Regions from separate parts of the Homo sapiens genome. Here regions 1, 2 and 4 are each linked to region 3. Evidence: fine-mapped expression QTL. A gene starts in region 3. Each other region holds a variant in brackets. All regions are shown on one strand. Distances are from middle to middle.

Evidence for each region. PIP is the estimated chance that this variant, and not a neighbour inherited with it, causes the effect.
Region 1: its variant is the best candidate, but not a certain one, in a credible set for the expression of SAMD5 in tibial nerve (GTEx, PIP 0.89).
Region 2: its variant is the best candidate, but not a certain one, in a credible set for the expression of SAMD5 in cerebral cortex (GTEx, PIP 0.73).
Region 4: its variant is the best candidate, but not a certain one, in a credible set for the expression of SAMD5 in prefrontal cortex (ROSMAP, PIP 0.59).

What each region holds. Positions count from the first base shown.
Region 1 is chr6:147,871,305-147,875,654 of GRCh38, forward strand. It overlaps a transcript of SAMD5 not described here. Among named protein-coding and RNA genes, the nearest start is that of SAMD5, 360 kb to the left of the region's middle. The variant T/C (reference allele first, on the strand shown) is at 2,647.
Region 2 is chr6:147,675,272-147,679,621 of GRCh38, forward strand. It overlaps a transcript of SAMD5 not described here. Among named protein-coding and RNA genes, the nearest start is that of SAMD5, 170 kb to the left of the region's middle. The variant C/T (reference allele first, on the strand shown) is at 1,815.
Region 3 is chr6:147,506,876-147,511,225 of GRCh38, forward strand. SAMD5 (sterile alpha motif domain containing 5) reads left to right here and starts at 1,815. Exons shown (of 2, transcript NM_001030060.3): 1 at 1,815-2,512. The coding sequence starts at 2,054. RefSeq lists a silencer at 1-16.
Region 4 is chr6:147,669,808-147,674,157 of GRCh38, forward strand. It overlaps a transcript of SAMD5 not described here. Among named protein-coding and RNA genes, the nearest start is that of SAMD5, 160 kb to the left of the region's middle. The variant A/G (reference allele first, on the strand shown) is at 2,111.

The sequences.
Region 1 (4,350 bases), 360 kb after region 3:
TTAATTACTAATATCAAAAGAGATACATTTAGGCTTAAGAATAAAACTATAAAAACTATACAAATTTACCATTGTACCTCTCTAGCTTTGATGTTATTAGGCAACTGTTTAAGGCTCATTTTCCCACTGAAACGGAAAAAACAAAAACAAAAACAGGACAAGACAAATCTCTAAAATGTAACCTCTTTTTAAAGATGACTGGGCAGAGCCTCAAAATAAAAGAAGTAAAGGAAAGAGAGATACAAAGGTGAGAAAAGTTAGGAAATTTTATTTGTCCTTCTCTTCACTTTATCAGAATGGCAAAATTAACAATATCATTCCAGTTTATTCCTTGGGTACCGGCAACATCTTATTGCTTATCTCTAGTGCTATCTAGAACCTTAAGCAACTCACTTTGTCCTCCCCTTTGTCCTATTAGAGACATCAGGCAAGGCAGCAGTATTAGGAAAAGGCATGTTTGATTACACCGTTCAAAAATCTGTCAGTTTTTTCCAGTTTTCTTTCAGACTTTCTTCCCCTACTGTAATTCCTGCTACGTTCTAAATTTTATTTTCATGAGGCCAACCAGTTGTTTCTAATATAGCGAATTAAATCTGTAACTCTCTTTCTTCAAAGTAATTAAAGAGAAACTTAGCATTCAGAAAAATAATATATATGTAAATTTAATTTAACAGGAATCCAGTGATTCTAATTAAGAAAAGGAGAACAGTCTTACCTACTGAGAAGAATCATGAGCATTTCTCCAGTTTGCAACAACGTTATTCTGATTCATAAACACACTATATTAGTATTAGTATTAGTGGTAGTGGTAGTATTATTAAGACATGGTCTTGCTCTGTCACCCAGGCTGGAGTGCAGTTGCACAATCACAGCTCACTGTAACCTTGAATTCCTGGGCTCAAGCAGTCCTCCCACCTCAGCCTCCCAAGCAGGTAGGATTACAGGTGTGCACCACCATGCCTGGCTGTTTTTTTTTAGAGATGGGGTCTTGCTCTGTTGTCCAGGCTGATCTAAATCTCCTAGCCTCAAGAGACCCTCTCACCTCAGCCTCCCAAACTTGTGGGATTATAAGCATGAGCTACCTGTGCCTGGTCTATTATGTAATCATTCTAAACTTGCTCTATGCCAAGCACTATTGTTAAGCGCTTTGCCTGAATTAACTAATTTGATCCTCATAGCATCCCAGTAAGGGTGGGTTATTATCCTCATTTTACAAATGAGGAAACACATCAGTGGGTTGGGTTCCTTGCCAAAGGTCACATTGCTAGGGGGAGGCAAGAAGCTGGATTTGAACTCATGTTTGCATCACTCCTCTATACTGCTTTTCCCTAGTGGAGTATGGAATGAGTATTCATGGGGACTGACCTGGTGCTCATGGACTTGCCCACTTCATGGTCCGTGATGGAACAGACATGAGGAAAATCCCTTTCCCATCACCTACACTCAGTCTGATGGCACTGTGTTCAGGCCACACTAATGATGGCTAATCAATGAGAACAAATGGATGGGTCAGTACCACCTGATGCCATATTGAAAAAATCTAACTCAAATTGGAAATTCTGCTCCCCAACAAGTCCCATAGCTCCATGAAGACAGGAAGTGTGTCCAATTTTAAACAATTTTCCTTGGTGTTTTCTTTTTAATCAGCTTCGGGGCCATCGTAGTGCCTTGTACAAGCACATAATCAACACAAGTGCGAACTGAATTGATCTATGCCTTGGTAGCATTGCCCTTAAAAATTGCACTCTTAAATATGATGAGAAACTAGCTGTATATTAAAAGTGTAATTTAAGGCCGGGTGCTGTGGCTCACGCCTGTAATCCCAGCACTTTGGGAGGTTGAAGTGGGTGGATCATGAGGTCAAGAGATTGAGACCATCCTGGCCAACATGGTGAAGCCCTGTCTCTACTAAAAATACAAAAATTAGCTGGGCGTGGTGGTGCACGCCTGTAGTCCCAGCTACTCGGGAGGCTGAGGCAGGAGAATCGCTTGAACCAAGGAGGCAGAGGTTGTAGTGAGCCAAGATCGCGCCACTGCACTCCAGCCTGGTGACAGAGTGAGACTCCATCTCAAAAAAAAAAAAAAAGTAATTTAACAACTAAGTATATTTGTCTGGTATCTATTCTGACTGTGTTGTTAGTTGATTTTTCAATAGTCTAGGGTTTAAAAAAATGCATGTTGCTATTAATTGTAATGTGAGTTTTATAGAAAGAGGAAAAAGAGTGACCCAAGACATGAAAATAAAATTATTTTGAAATATTCATATGATGTAGGAAGGTTTTCTGTGTATATATCGTACTAATGCTAATGGTACTTACTAGTTATTATATGGATTATTTATTAAAAGTATAAATTTTTATTAAGTGGTTCTAATTTTATAATTAGAGAAATTTTAAAGTACCTGAGTTAAAATAATGACTTATTATTTAATTTGGCTTCCTTTCCTTGTAATTAAAATATTCAGTACTTTCTTTTTATCAGATTTATCTTTACTTCTTTATTCATTGAGCTAGCTACAGTGGTTTCCATGCATAGATTCTTTTAATGTCCTATATACCTTCTGGAAAGTTAGGAAGTATTTTATGATGCATCACCAATGTTATTTCAAAAACCCCAAATTAGCAGCAAACTTATACATAGGAAAAA[T/C]AGAATGAGTCAGTGGATTGTTTTATATTATATGTCTCTTGAGAACAAGTCATCAAAAGTTACAGCATTTAAAAAAATGTACCATGTATATAGGAGAAATCTGTCTCAGCTACTGTCTGCTTTTAGTGAACATGATACTATGCTTACTTAATTGCTCAAAAAACTTTAGGCAATGCTAAGCAAGAATAGAAGGCTTTTTCCTAGGGTGGGGAAACAGGCTGATTGGCTTTACTTCCTTAATTATGGCTTCACAGTTTAGGCATTACAGAAATATTACATATCTGACTCTTAAGGTCTTTACCCATTTCATATTAGATCTTAGATTTCTTCATCCCATTATTGATCTAAAATGTCTCTAGCTCTCTCGGGTAAAGGAAGAACATGCCCATGTGTTGCATTAGGTAATTCCTATTATTGAAAAGCTGTGTTCAATCTAAAATGACCTTTTCTTGGATTTTTTGTCAAGCTAGCTTTGCAACCCATATTAAATTGAAGCTTTTGTATGAGGACCGAGAAGCCCGTTGTTGCGTGGGCAATGACATTCTTAGGGTGTTTGCTCAGGACAGCCGGCCCTCCGGCCAGCTGGTGGCAGGAGCTGGAGCATTTGGCCGAGTAGTCATTGCTGCTTTTTTTAAGTCCACAGCAAAGACAGGGCATTGGGTCTGAATTTGGACTATAAAGAAGGATGGACAAGTGCTATGCAAAGAAAAAGTTCATCTGTGAAGAGGATCTCTGTGCTTTCATAATCAGAACTCACAGCATCAGTACTTTTGAAGATGTCGAACAAGAATTTTGGGAGGGGCAGCATGGAGATTTGGACTTTTCACAAAAATAAATTTGATAATCAGCATTGGTTTTACTTTAATTTTAGTGGTCCTTTATGATTGTACATGTTTATAGTGACAAATTACGTCTGTGGGATTCGGGCAGGACTTTGAAAATGGCCTGATTATGTTAAGCTGCGTTAAGAGTTTTCTGGGAGGCTCACATGACTTCACTCAGAGAAAATGCCCAAATGGTAAGAGAGGAACTCTCTTAATTGCCTATTTCCGCATGTTACTGTTTTCTTAAGCAAAGATTGTTCATTTACTTACCTTTTAAGTTTGTGTTTGCACTTCCAAGTTGAATTTTAAAACTTCTTCATTTAAAATAATAATAATAGTCACTTTAAAATTCTCTCATGATTAGAAAGACAGTTTCTCAAATTTTAACACTAATTCTATACTTGTCAGGTTTATTTTGGTTTACATTATATGCACTATTTTTCCCCTAAGACCTTAAAAACAACCTTATTTGAGAAATGTGAATTATGTGATTAGAATGCCCAGTTTTACTGAACCCAGCAGAGTTCTAGTTACTGAAGATACACCAATGGCCTGCACCACTTAGAGCAACGACCAAGTAGTGGTCCCCTCTTAACTCTTTTACTGTCTGTGAGGTATGACCTTCTTTACACCCCCACATGCCTCTAGTATGCATTGAAGTCCAGCCTGCCCAGAGCTGTTAAGCAGCTATAACTAATAATTTCCATTCGACTATCTCATCCCTCTTCTCTTCTACTCTCTTGTCAGCTGAGTGTTCTATCCCCTAGAACAGGGGTCCCCAGCCCCTGGTCTGTGGCCTGTTGGGAACCAGGCCACACAGCAGGAGGTGAGTGGTGGGCAAGCCAGGAAGCTTCATCTGTCCTCACAGCCACTCCCCATC
Region 2 (4,350 bases), 170 kb after region 3:
GACTGAAGCAGAGTTTCAGCCTATGTTCCTGGGCTTCCTTTAGAATTGTAACCACAAGTAAGCTCTGAAATGTGAAGAACCCATCCTGAACGTGTTCCCTCTGCTTTCCTGTTGAGGTTACCTTGCCAAGTGAATACCTCATATACATCCGTACTATAAAACATGACTGGCTCCCCAACAACGTAATTGAAACAGATGTTCTAGATACTGTTTTACTCTTCAGTGATGTCATCTCATTAGGGATGAATGTTTCTTTGTTCTTTTTTATGAATCATTTTAACTTATTCTACGCGGGTTTTGTATGTGTAGGAGTTTTTGCCAGTGGTTGTTAGCTTCTGATTTATTTTAATTGAAACGTATACATGGTATATGTCATTAAGGCCTCACTCTTAAATTTGCTGTATTTGATACAGTATTGTGGCCATTGATTGGTCCAGTAATATAACTTAAATGTAGATTTTAGGATGTTTTTTGTATAAGGGGAAAATTATAACACCTTCATAGAATCCATTTAAAATGAACTGACAGTGATTTTCTGTTAATGCAGAGCTGCAGCAAATCACTGAAGTTCAAGGGTAATGAAACTGCTGGTCATTTACATTAATGCCACGCAAAAGAAATAAACTTCCTTTGCATTTTATTACCCACTTGTAAATATGTTGGAGAATACCAAGAATTTAGCTTAAGTTTCAATATATCAACACCAAGCACAGTTACCTTTTAACTGTTTATTTTACACTGCATGGTGAAAGCGTGGAGTAAGTTGCTTTTATGGTAATTGAAGTTTGTCATCTTTCACTCAGTTGCCTGCTTGTAATGTTACCCCTGAGAAAAGTCATCTGAAAATGGGAAATGGACCTGGACAGGAATAAGCAGAGCATGCTGTAGGTATTAAGTTCAATTCAAACATCATTTTTATTCAACCCCGGCAAGATGCTGGGGACCATTTTGGAAACTGGCAGTACAAACCTGTGAGAAGTCTCTCACCTCACAGAATTCACAGTCCAACTCTGGACACCGAGATACTAGCAATGAACACTGATCTTGCCATTCTTCAAATGCAAGCTCACTTCCTCAGCTCCTTCAGGTGTTTGCTGAAAGATCATCTATTCAGTGGGGCTTTCTTAGACCACCTAATTTTAATATTGCAATTTCCTTCCCAACTCTCAGCACTCATTATTTTTCTATCCTGGTTTATAGCACTTATTGGTAGAGTATGCTGTTAGTAAATAGTGTACTATTTTTAAAGTCTATACCTCTTGTATATTATTGATTTCCTCCTATTGGAAGGTGAATTCAACGAGGGTAGGGATTTTCATCTGTTTTGCTCATTGATGGATCCCTACACCCTAGAACATGCCTGGCACATTGTAGGCAGTCAGTATATACATGAGTAGGGATGAATCATCCTAAGACAGCTGAGAAAGGATTCAAAGAGAAAGTAACATTTAAACCAGACCTTGAAGAAGCGATAGAAATATCCAGGAGAGATGCAGCTTTCCAGTAGAGAGATTGCCACGAGCAAAGCACATGTCTAAGGAGGAAAGAGTGGCCTGGGGGTGGGGGTGGGGGTAGGGGAGCTAGAAGATCAGGGTAGAGGGGGCTGGATGAAATACAGAATTGAGGGAGGGGGAGTGAGAGTAAGAAATGACAGAAGCTGGGGCCAGATGGTGAGGGGCCAGATAAAAATAAAATTAGCATATAAATGGACTGGCTTTGCTCAATCAAAGGAGGATTTTCTTTCTTAAAGAAAGACAGTGGCTCTTTTCCTGATTTTTATGACTTGAGCTCATAAATCAAATCTTCAGAGCTAC[C/T]GACAATGTCAGCCTGCTGATGTTTAGGAGTGGAGGGTGACTGAGGAATGCGGTGTGCTGCGGATAGTCATGTCATCAGCAAGGATGTCTCAGAGTCTGCAAACCCGGACCTCTCTGTATTGGACAAGGCTAGGGAATGACTTTGAGAAGAACTGAATATTAAAGGAATTATCAACTTGAGTAGTAAGAGAGTTTCTAAGAATGATGGCAGAGCCACTCTGAAGTTCCTGAATGAGGTGGAGGAGGGGGAGAAAGTGGTGTGGTAAGGAACTTCAGTGGAGAAACAGCCCAGAGAACTGGGAAAGCAATGACTTGGAAGCAGCAATGAGTTGGTGTTGGAAAAGGAGTGGCTGCCATTGGGAAGGTTTAGAGGGTAAACTTTGAGCTTGAGGAAAATTAAGTTACATTTAATGTGAGAAAATGGAGGAAAAATGTGATCTGTATCTAACAGAGAGAATGGGATTGAGTTGAGTATCTAACACAGATAATGGGATTAAAAAACCCCAAGAGGATGAAGCCTCAGAGTAGCATAAAGGGGCTGGGCAGCAGAAGAGCTCTGGGCCAAGCTCACCACTATGGAGGAAGCAGGAAGGGTGCCCAGGGATGGCGGGCGGGGGCTTGGGAGCAAGGCCATGGGACATCGGCACTGTAAAGGGATGGGGAGGTTAGAGGGTGTATGGTGGTTGCATCGTAGTTAGTAGGGAGCCTTGTGAATTGTCACCTTAGAGGCCCAACCAAAAAGTGAGCAAGCCAGCCCCTTCCATGCTCAGGCACTTTTGAATAATTGAAACACTCCTGGCAATATCCCAAGTGTCATCTTATATTACCCTGAAAATAGCTGCTCCATTTAGGGTTGCATTTAACAGAGCTTATGTAGAAAAGATAAAGAATGGTGCAATTGGTTCTCATCCTACCTCTTTGGTTAAGGGCATTTACTCCACTGAGGGGTGGAGGTGGGAGCAGGATAATGTGTAATTTATGGTAAATTATCATAGATATTTATAGATGCATTTTCCCATAAGATTGTCTTATTTTATACGCCTGACTTAAACTTCTGAAAGAAGGCAAAGGCAACTCTTATCTTCTCGTTTGCACATTAAAGCACACGTACTCACTTATATTAACATAACATTGTTAGCATTTTCTGTCTTGTCACTATTAAAAATAAAACAGTAGGATTTACAAAGAATAACAAAATTTGTTATTGTAAACTAACACAGTCTCTCATTGTTATGCTGTTATAGTGTCTTCATATTTTAAGGAATTTGCAATCATGTAAAATGTATTGAATTTGATAGACTTCCACTATAAAACAGCTGAATGCTTCATAACAACCAACAAAGGGGTTGCATTTTTTCAGCTTGGCAGATTAACTGCTGGTTTTGTTTCCTGCCAGATCACTCGCTGTAACATAAGTAATAAATCAGGATAATTTTCTTCCTTTTTAGGGCTTTTCTTAAGTCTACCAAAACTCTCTTTTCTGGTAGGCAGAAAGATGGGGGACCTCATCTATACCTGTTACCTCTCCTCATCAACAATCTTATTCAAAACCAAACACTTAGATGAAATGGGTGGAAGGATGTCCCAGCATAGAGAAATAAGCCATAAAAGAACGCCTTGAGAAATGGGAGTTCATGGAAGAGGGAAGGGTTTTCTCACTGTGTTACTTTAGTGTGTTCTTGGCATAAGTGAGCTCTCTTTTTTTAAAACACCTTTAATGAGGTATACTTGTCATACAATAAACTGCACATATTCCAAGTGTACAATTGTGTTAAGTTTGACACAGGTGTATACCCATGAAACCATCACCACAATCAAGATAATGAACATATCCATCGTCTCCAAAAGTGTATTGTTGTATGTCTCAATAGTTCATTGCTTTTTATGGCTGAGTGATGTTCAGTAATATAATTGTGTACTAATATATGGCTATATATACCACAATTTAATGGATAGATATACCACAATTTGTTTACCCATTCACCTGTTGATGGGTGTTTGGGTTGTTTCCAGTTTGTGATTATTACAAATAAATCTATGAATATTTATGTACACATTTTTATAAGATCACATTTTACCTTTTTCTAGGAGTGGAGTGGCTGGATCGAATAGTGGGTCTATGTATCACTTTTAAAGAAACTTCTGGACTATTTTCCAAAGCAGTTGTATCATTTTGTATTCAGACTGCAGAGTATGAGAGTTCAGTAGCTTTACATTATAGTCAATGCTTGGGATGGCCAGACTTTTTCATTTTAGAAACTCAAATAAGTTTGTAGTAGAATGTCATTATAGTTTTTATTTCCTTAATGATGAATGATGTCAGGCATCTCTTCGTGTGCTTATGTGCATTTGTATATATTCTTTGGTGAGGTGTCAGTTCAAATATTTTGTCCATTTTTTAACTTGGGTTTGTTTTCATATTATTGAGTTTTGAGAATTCCACAATGAATTTATGTATTCTAGATTAAATTACTTTATCAAATAGGTTTTTTGCAATTATTTTTCCCAGTCTGTGGCTTATTTTTTCATTTGGAAA
Region 3 (4,350 bases):
CCCAGGAGCTTCGCCACCTACCAGGGTCCGAGACCTTAACTCGGTTCCGGAAAGGGCGTCCCGGGTGACCCAAGTTTGGGGCCACAAGCAGCTCCACCGGCTCTCCGCGTTGGTCTCTCCCCTCCCCCTAAGCAGACAGTCCTTTCTGCCAGCTGTCCTTAATTTGAGATTCGTGAGTCCCGGGGTTTGGGAAACCAGAACCCCCCTGCGACTGTAGGGAACGTTTTGGGTGCGCCTATGTCGGGTATTTTCCTGGGCAAAAGGACAGAAGCTGTCATCTGATTCTTTAAGGGGTTCGTGTCCCAAGAGGGGGTTAAGCTCTCTTGGTTTAGGATAAGAGGGCCCACCTAACCACCCACCCAAATGCCAAACACACAGCAGGTCGAGAAACGACTCTGAAATCACTCCTTGTCCACTTCCCAAGGTCGGGCGAGAGACTGGCACGCCCCACGGGCAATCTTCAGAAAAAAAGGTCAGATCTGGTCCTTAAACAGCTCAGGTGCGAAGCTGAATCGCCCTTCTGCGGAAAGAGAGGAGACAGTACCTGCCCCCGCCGTCCCTCACTTCCCTTAGTCCCAAGAAGAGGTCAGACACCGGGAAATGGGGCCCAGGCGCTTGGTCTGTTCCACCTGCCACTCGAGTCCCCAGTCCCAAGAGGCTGCTCAGACATTGGCATGATGGGGAAACTCGATTGATTTTGTTACCTCCTAGAGGGAAAATGCCGTGGGCGGAGATGTCTGAGCGTCCCTTCCAACACGAGCTGGGTGGTGCTCTATTGATTTTCACGCGATCCCCGGGCGGGAGCGAGAGGATAGGCTCGGATTCCCGGGCTCCAGGACCGAACGCCTGGCAGTGTCCCCGGGGGCAAAGCCACCCCGGGAGCCCGTGCAGTATACTAGGTGGGGGGCCCGGAGAGAAAGCATAGCGCCGACGAGGGGGAGGGGCCGGGCAGAAAGGAGGGTGGGGTACCGGGTGGGACACACTGACCTAGGAGAAAGTACAACCCACCCCAAACTTTCGCAGACCCGGGAGCTTAGGAAGGGAGAGCCAGGAAGACAGCAGCCTCTCCTGCCGCCCAACGTGCCCAGCTGCAGCGAGGAGGGGCGGCGCGCAAGCCGGCTGGACCCGGGCGGTCCCCACGTTGCGCCCACCCTCCGGGCCAAAACGCCGCCGCTCGGGTCACTGAGTGGCCGCCCACGGAAGAAGTCAGATCGCCGGGCTCTGGGCTGCGTACGGGATCCGAGGAAGGGGGATTCAAACGCGGATCCGGAAGGAAGGGACACTGAACCCCGCAGCGTCCCCAGCGCCGTGGGGCGGCGGGACGTGTCCTTGGGCTGCCAGCGGGCGCGGAAGCTGGAGTCCGGCAGGGTCGGGAAGAAGTGAGCACAGACTTCCACGGGTAGAAGAGTCAGATTAAACAGAAATGTGAAAAGCAACCCAGGGCAGCCAACGGAGCCCAGCAGCGTAGAAGCCACCGGCTTCCCGCCGGGAGGACTACAGTGACTGACACTCGCGAAGACTAGGCGCTCCCAGCGGCCGCGGGTCTGCGTGGAGAAGTCGCCTCGCGGCGCGGAGCGCGCCAGCGGCGGCGGCGGCTGCCAGAGCGCGAGATGCGGCGCGCAGCCGCCGGACCGTCCCGGCTGGGAAAACTCGCGGGCGGCACTGCGCAGCGCTGACCCGGCGCAGGTCCGAGGGGTGTGCCCCGGCCCCTCCCGTCTCCGCCCCCTCCCGCGCCAGTCGCGCGCCCCTCCCCGCGGCGGCAGCGTCGGCGGCGCATCCAGGGGCGGCGCGGAGCCTTGCTCAGCCCAGCAGCCAGTGCCTGCGAGCTCCGCTGCTGCTTGGGGAATTCACTTTGCTGCTTGTTCGCTTCTCCCTTCCTCAGGCTTCTTCTGATGGTTTTCCGTCTCCTGCCCGAGCCTTTCCTTTAAAAGGAAAACTTTACTGCGATACCCTTTTCCCCTTGGAGGAGAGGATTAAAAGTTCCAAGAACTGGTGCCGCCCGTGCCATTTGGGCGCTGGGAAGGTGCTCGGCGGCGGGGTTCCCGGTCCCACCATGTGCACCAACATAGTTTACGAGTGGCTCAAAGCGCTGCAGCTTCCGCAGTACGCGGAGTCCTTCGTGGATAACGGCTACGATGACCTGGAGGTGTGCAAGCAGATCGGGGACCCGGACCTGGATGCCATCGGGGTGCTGGCGCCCGCGCACCGCCGCCGTATCCTGGAGGCCGTGCGCCGGCTGCGGGAGCAGGACGCCAACGCCGCCGGCCTCTACTTCACGCTTGAGCCGCAGCCGGCGCCCCCCGGGCCGCCCGCCGACGCCGTCCCCACCGGCCGCCGGGGGGAGCCGTGCGGCGGCCCGGCCCAGGGCACCCGCGGGGACTCTCGCGGCCACACGACCGCCCCCCGCAGCAGGGAGCTGGTGAGCTACCCCAAACTGAAGCTGAAGATCATGATCAGGGATAAGCTCGTCCGTGACGGCATCCACCTGAGCAAGCCCCCGTACTCCCGCAAGGTAAGGAGGTGCCGTCCGGGCGGCCCGGGGCGCGCGGCGGGAGGGGACACAGCCCAGCTGCCTGTGCCAAGGCTTTGCAACCCATTCCAGGTGACGACGGAGAGGCCAGGAGGCTTTGGGTATCTGGGACCCTTTTCTATGTTCTTTCTGTATTAGCCCATTATTTCGTCCTTCCTGGTGTCTCCAGTGGTTGGTAAGACAAGCCCCCGCATCCAGATGTTATCTCTAAACTAACGACCAAAACTCCGCATCCTCTCTGGTGCTCGCCTGTCAGGAATCGGACTCGCGCTGCTTCACCTGGTAGCCAGGGGGAATTCCTAACGCCCTCTATAGTAGTTTTGGGTTTGAAGAGTACCAGAAAAAATGGTTAATACCTACATTGCTTTCTACCTTCCTTTTTCTCTTTCTTTTCCTTTTTTGAGTCTTGAGAAACTCCTAAGGGAAATCGGTGAACTCTTTAAAGAGTGGAAAGTCAGGCCCTGCCTTTCTCAATTCCATAAAAAATCCCAGCGCTGCTGCAAATTTGAGAAGCTTACCATTCACATGAGCATTTTAAGAGGAAAAGTGAAGGAAGCACGTGTCAGTCCACTTGAGATGATTTCCTAAACTTGTGTATACTGGAGGCAATAAGGTGCTAAGGACATCAGAGATAATCGGGCCACAGGATGTGCTTCAGAGGTCTGGGCTGTCACGAGTTTGGTTTATTATTAAGCCAGATAAGATGAAGTAGGTACAACTGTGACTTCCAGGAAGTGTGAGTGGACCTGCATTTGGGAGAGGAGGACCGAGCACAAGTGAACTAAAGGGGAATCCTCTGCACCGGGGGCCTCAGGGAAGGAACCTGGAAGTTCCGAAATGTGGAGTGGGAGCTGGGTAATTAACAGAAAATGGTACTTCACACCAGAGCTCTGCTTCTAGCTGCGAGTCTGTTCCGTTTAGGTTTCTAGTTCAGGCGGCTGTCGGAGTAGAGGGTCCTGACTTGATAGAGAAGTAGACAGCACAGGTAACGCTCAGGATTGCAGAAGGTGCACAGGAATATGAGCACCTCAGCTTAAAAATCAAGACTTAGAAGAGCCCAGGGAGAAAATGATGGCAAACATACTCAGCTGGTGGGCCACAGAAACCCAACTCCCTAATAGGAAATGTGGATAATCTCAGTGTTGTGTGGGTATCTTGGGCCCTGGTAGTATTGCTGTAGAATCTTAAGTAAAGGCTGTAATGCCTGGAGTTAAGGAAGTTAAAGGGAAAGCTTTGTTAAGAGTAGATAACAATACCTAAGGTAGATGGGAATAAGGGGTTTAATATTATCTACTACCTTGCACGTACCATAGGCAATTCAGATCACCTGCTTGACCATGTTAATTGGTTTTTTAAGGAGGATACAAAGAAGGCAGGTTGGGAGGACAGAGTGCTTCAAATTAAACACGTGTTCCAGTTACCCACTCTGTGCCACTGATGTGTGCTCAAAGCAGGAAAGGAGAGAACACTTTTCCCAGGCAGTTGCCTGTATGTAGGAGTTCCATGTATGTCTGGTGTGGATAGAGAGATCTGGTCATCAGTATAAAGGCTTGGTCCTGGACACAGCAGGTCAAAGGAGATCAAAGCCAGTTAGATGTTTGTTATTAGCATCCCGGGAAGTAAGGTGGGCTTAGTCTGAGAGAATGTGAGTACCTGGGCACTTGATAAGGGCACAGTTCAAGTCCTGGCAAGAAAGGAATGCAGAGAGCAAAGTGTGTCACTAGAGCTTACTTATTCTTCAGGAAAAGTGCTGTGTAATGGGGCGGGGAGAGCAGGGACACCGTGGGCTGGAGGTGAGAAGCGTAAGCTTGAAGTGACAC
Region 4 (4,350 bases), 160 kb after region 3:
CCTCAAAATCATTCATGAGGATTGGAATCAATTTCTTCCAAACTCTTGTTTATGTTGATATTTTGACCTTCTTTCATGAATCATGGATCTTCTTAATGACATCTAGAATGGTGAATTCCTTCCAAAAGGTTTCAATTTACTTTGCCCAGATCCATCAGAGGAATCACAATCTTTGGAAGCTACCACCTTACGAAATGTGTTTCTTAAATAAGACTTGAAAGTCAGAATTACTCCTTGATCCATGGGCTGCAGGAAGGATGTTATTACCAAGCATGAAAACAGCATTCATCTCTTTGTACATCTCCATCAGAGCTCTTGGATGACCAGGTGCATTGTCAATGAGTGGTAATATTTTGAAAGGATTTTTTTCCTTTTTCTGAGAAGTAGATCTCAACAATGGGCTTAAAATATTCAATAAGCCATGTTGTAAAGAGATGTGTTGTTAGGCAGGCTTTGTTGTTCCACTTATAGAACACAAACAGAGTAAATTTAGCATAACTCTTAAGGGCCCTAAGATTTCCAGAATGATTGAATGAGCATTAGCTTCAGCTTCAAGTCAGCAGCATTAGTCCCTAACAAGAGAATCAGCCTTTCTGTTGAAGCTTTGAACTCAGACATTGACTTCTCCTTTAAAGCTATGAAAGTCTTAGATGGCAACTTCTTCCAATAGAAGGCTGCTTCATGTACATTGAAACTCTGTTGTTTAGTTTAGCTGCTTTCACCCATGATCTTAAATCTTCTGAATAACTTGCTGCAGCTTTTCTATCAGCACTTCCTGCTTCACCTTGCACTTTTATGTGTTGGTGATGGCTTCTTTTCTTAAACTTCATGAACCAACATTTCCTAGCTTCAGACTTTTCTTCTACAGCTTCCTTACCTCTGTCAGCCTTCTTAGAATTGAAGAGAGTTAGAGCCCTGCTTTGAATTAGGCTTTGAGTTAAAGGAATGTTGTGGCTGTTAGGATCTTTTATCTAGACTATTAAGTTTCTCCATATCAGCAATAAGGCTAATTTTGGTTTTCTGTCATTCATGTGTTCACCGTAGTAGCACTTTACATTTCCTTTAAAAACTTTGCCTTTGCATTCGCATCTTTCCTGTTTGGCACCAGAGGCCTAGCTTTTGGCCCATCTTGGCTTTTGACATGACTACTTCACTAAGCTTAATAATTTCTAGCTTTTGACTTAAAGTGAGAGAAATGCAACTCTTCCTTTCACTTGAACACTTCGAGATCATTGTAAGCTTATTAGCTGGCCCAATTTCAATGTTGTGTCTCAGTGAAATAGAGAGGCTTAAGAAGGGCAAGAGGGACAGAAGAATGGCAGGTCAGTGGAGCAGTCAGAACACATATTTATTGATTGAATTCACCATCATGTGGGAGCAGTTTGTGGCACCCCGCAACAACTACAGGGGTAACATCAAAGGTCTCTGATCACAGATCACCATAGCAGGTATAATGAAAAGTTTGAAACATTACCAAAATATGACACAGAGACACAAAGTGAGCACATGCTGTTGGAAAAATGGCGCCATAAGACTTGTTTGATGCAGGCTTGCCACAGACTTTCCATCTGTGAAGAGTGCAGTATCTGAAAACTACAATAAAGCAAAGCACAATAAAATGAAGTATGCATGTATTTTTGATATACGGATTAATATATCTGTAGGACAGAGTTTCAGAAGTAGACTTACTAAGTCAAGGTTTAAGCACTTTTAACATACAGAGTTTCTACCAAATTGTTCCCAGAATGGCTGAAACAAGTTGCTAACACCAATAGCATAAGAGAACATTGTTTCCTAGTGGGTCTTTGGTCATTGGGTGTTATTAATTTTTTGCTTAATATCTTCAACAAATTGAGCAACAAGCCACCCATTACTTAATTATTTCTTCTGTTTTCATAAAAATTTTGGATCTTTTTATGTGTCCGTCCTATTTTTTGAATGTCAATTGCTTATCTTTTCTCCCATTTTCATTTATCTTCTTGTTCATTATTGCTCTAGTGCCACATTTTGAAAATTACTGGAAATTTATAATATGCTTTATATTTAATAGGACATGTTTCTTCTCATTTTTCTTTTTCAGGATTTTTTTTTTTTTTTTTTTTTTTAGCTC[A/G]TCTTGCACATTTACCCTTCCAGATGGATTTTAAAATCAACTTGACAAATTCCATAGAAAATTCTCTTGGGGATTTTGTTGCAGTCTGCATTGAATATATAAATAAATTTTAGGAGCGTTTACGTGTTTACAATATTGAGTTTTCCAACCAGGAACATGGTTAACCTCTCTACTTACAGATTTTTATTTGTAGCTTTTTATAAAATATTATAGCATGTGTACTTTTGTTATTTGTCTTAATGCTAGTATTTTATACTTTTTGCCATTATTGTGAATGGAAAATTTTCCATTATGTGTTGTAATTATTATTAAAGATACACAAGGAAACTGATTTTTGCTTACCTTGTTCTAGTCACTTTATGGTATACTTTGATTAATTTTAGCATATGTTCAGTGGATGTTCTTGGATTGAGAAATTCTTTAATTACAAAATGTTAAAGTATATATTGTGGTAAATTTTCCAAAGTCTAAATTTATAAAATATAAAGAGAAAATGCTTCTCCATCACTTTGAACAGTTCTGCAACATGAATATTTTTTCACTTACAATGTGTTAGATATTTTCATGTTAGTGCGTGGGGATGTACTCTATTCTTTTGAGAAACTGCGTATTCTTTGTATGGATAATCATGGTATATTTTTATCCAGGAAATGTTTAACATAGTTAAATAAATCAATAGCAAATAACACTAAAAGGCTTATATTGAAGAAAATCAGTCTCCTTATAATAGCCCCCCACCCTTATCCCCCACATCCACCTTCCACAGAGGCCACTTTAAGCAATTTTTTTTGTTGCATATATCTTCATATTTCTAAATGTTCTGATTATACTGCTCTTTCTTGGTATTTCATCATTTATTGATTTTCTAGGTGAAGATTTACTTTTTAAAAATCCCTCTCTTTTGCTCCTTAAGTTCCTTCCAAATAATACATTTCACAATTTATTTATTTATTTATTTTAAACCAAAAGCCACTATTTACATTGTTGTAACTGTTTAACATAGTTTACTGTTAGACCAAACAGTATAGCATGACTTACTTTTGTCTTGCATCTTCTAGGTAAGTGATAGCTTTAATTCTTCTCTTTCTACAATTATGCTACTCTTACCTTTTTCTTGTGTTATTTTGTTGGCTAGAACTTCTAGAATAATGTTGAATAGTAATAATAATACTGATTTTTCTTATCTTGTCCTTGGCTCCTTGGCTCTTACAGAAATACCTTGAATGCTGATTAATTGTTTAGAAATAAACATTTAAATGTCTCAGCTCAGATAAATTTTGATACCAAAAAGCAAAAACCATTTTTTTTTTTTTTGATACAGAGTCTTGCTCTGTTGCCCAGGCAGGAGTGCAGTGGCGTGATCTCTGCTCACTGCAAGCTCCGCCTCCTGGGTTCACGCCATTCTCCTGCCTCAGCCTCCTGAGTAGCTGGGACTACAGGTGCCTGCCACCACGCCCAGCTTATTTTTTGTATTTTTGTTAGAGACGGGGTTTCACTGTGTTAGCCAGGATGGTCTTGATCGCCTGACCTCTTGATCCGTCTGCCTCGGCCTCCTGAAATGCTGGGATTACAGGTGTGAGCCACCGCACCCCGCCAAAAACCATTTTTTAAAATAAGATTTTTAGCCTTTTCTTTTGGAAAATGATACTTGTGCGGACACTTCCTCTATTTATTGATGGTATCAGGTTTTTTTTTCCTGGCTTAATAAAAGCAAGATATAGTAACCTAACTATTGTTAAATGCTGATTTCATTTTTTTAATCAGATGTATCAAATCCATGAAAAATATAATTAAAAGAAAAAATTAAGAACCTTAAACATCAATTCTTCGGTGATGAGACTATGGTGAAGGTCACCTATATCTAGAGTGTTGTCAATAAGAGCAACATGAATGAAAGATGGAGGGAAAAGGAGGGTTTAATCTATGCAGGAATAGGGTTTTAAAAGAAAGTGGAGGTCAGTTTGTCAGAAAAAAAAGGATAATGGGTTAGAGGTCTTCAGGTATTTGGGTAATTAATAAAAATGTAGTGTACAAGGCAATTTTAAGCTCTGTGATTATTAGGAAGGATTAACAGTAAGTATGACTTGGTATTTATTCACAGTTGTTCAATGGTTATGCTAATGACACAATGTTGTGCTGTAAATGTAAATTGAAAACTGCTCTTTTACTCTTTTGTTTTTTTACTTTTATATCTGTTTGGGGTAAGAGAGAAAAGGGGGACAGGGGCTGTCATTAATTGT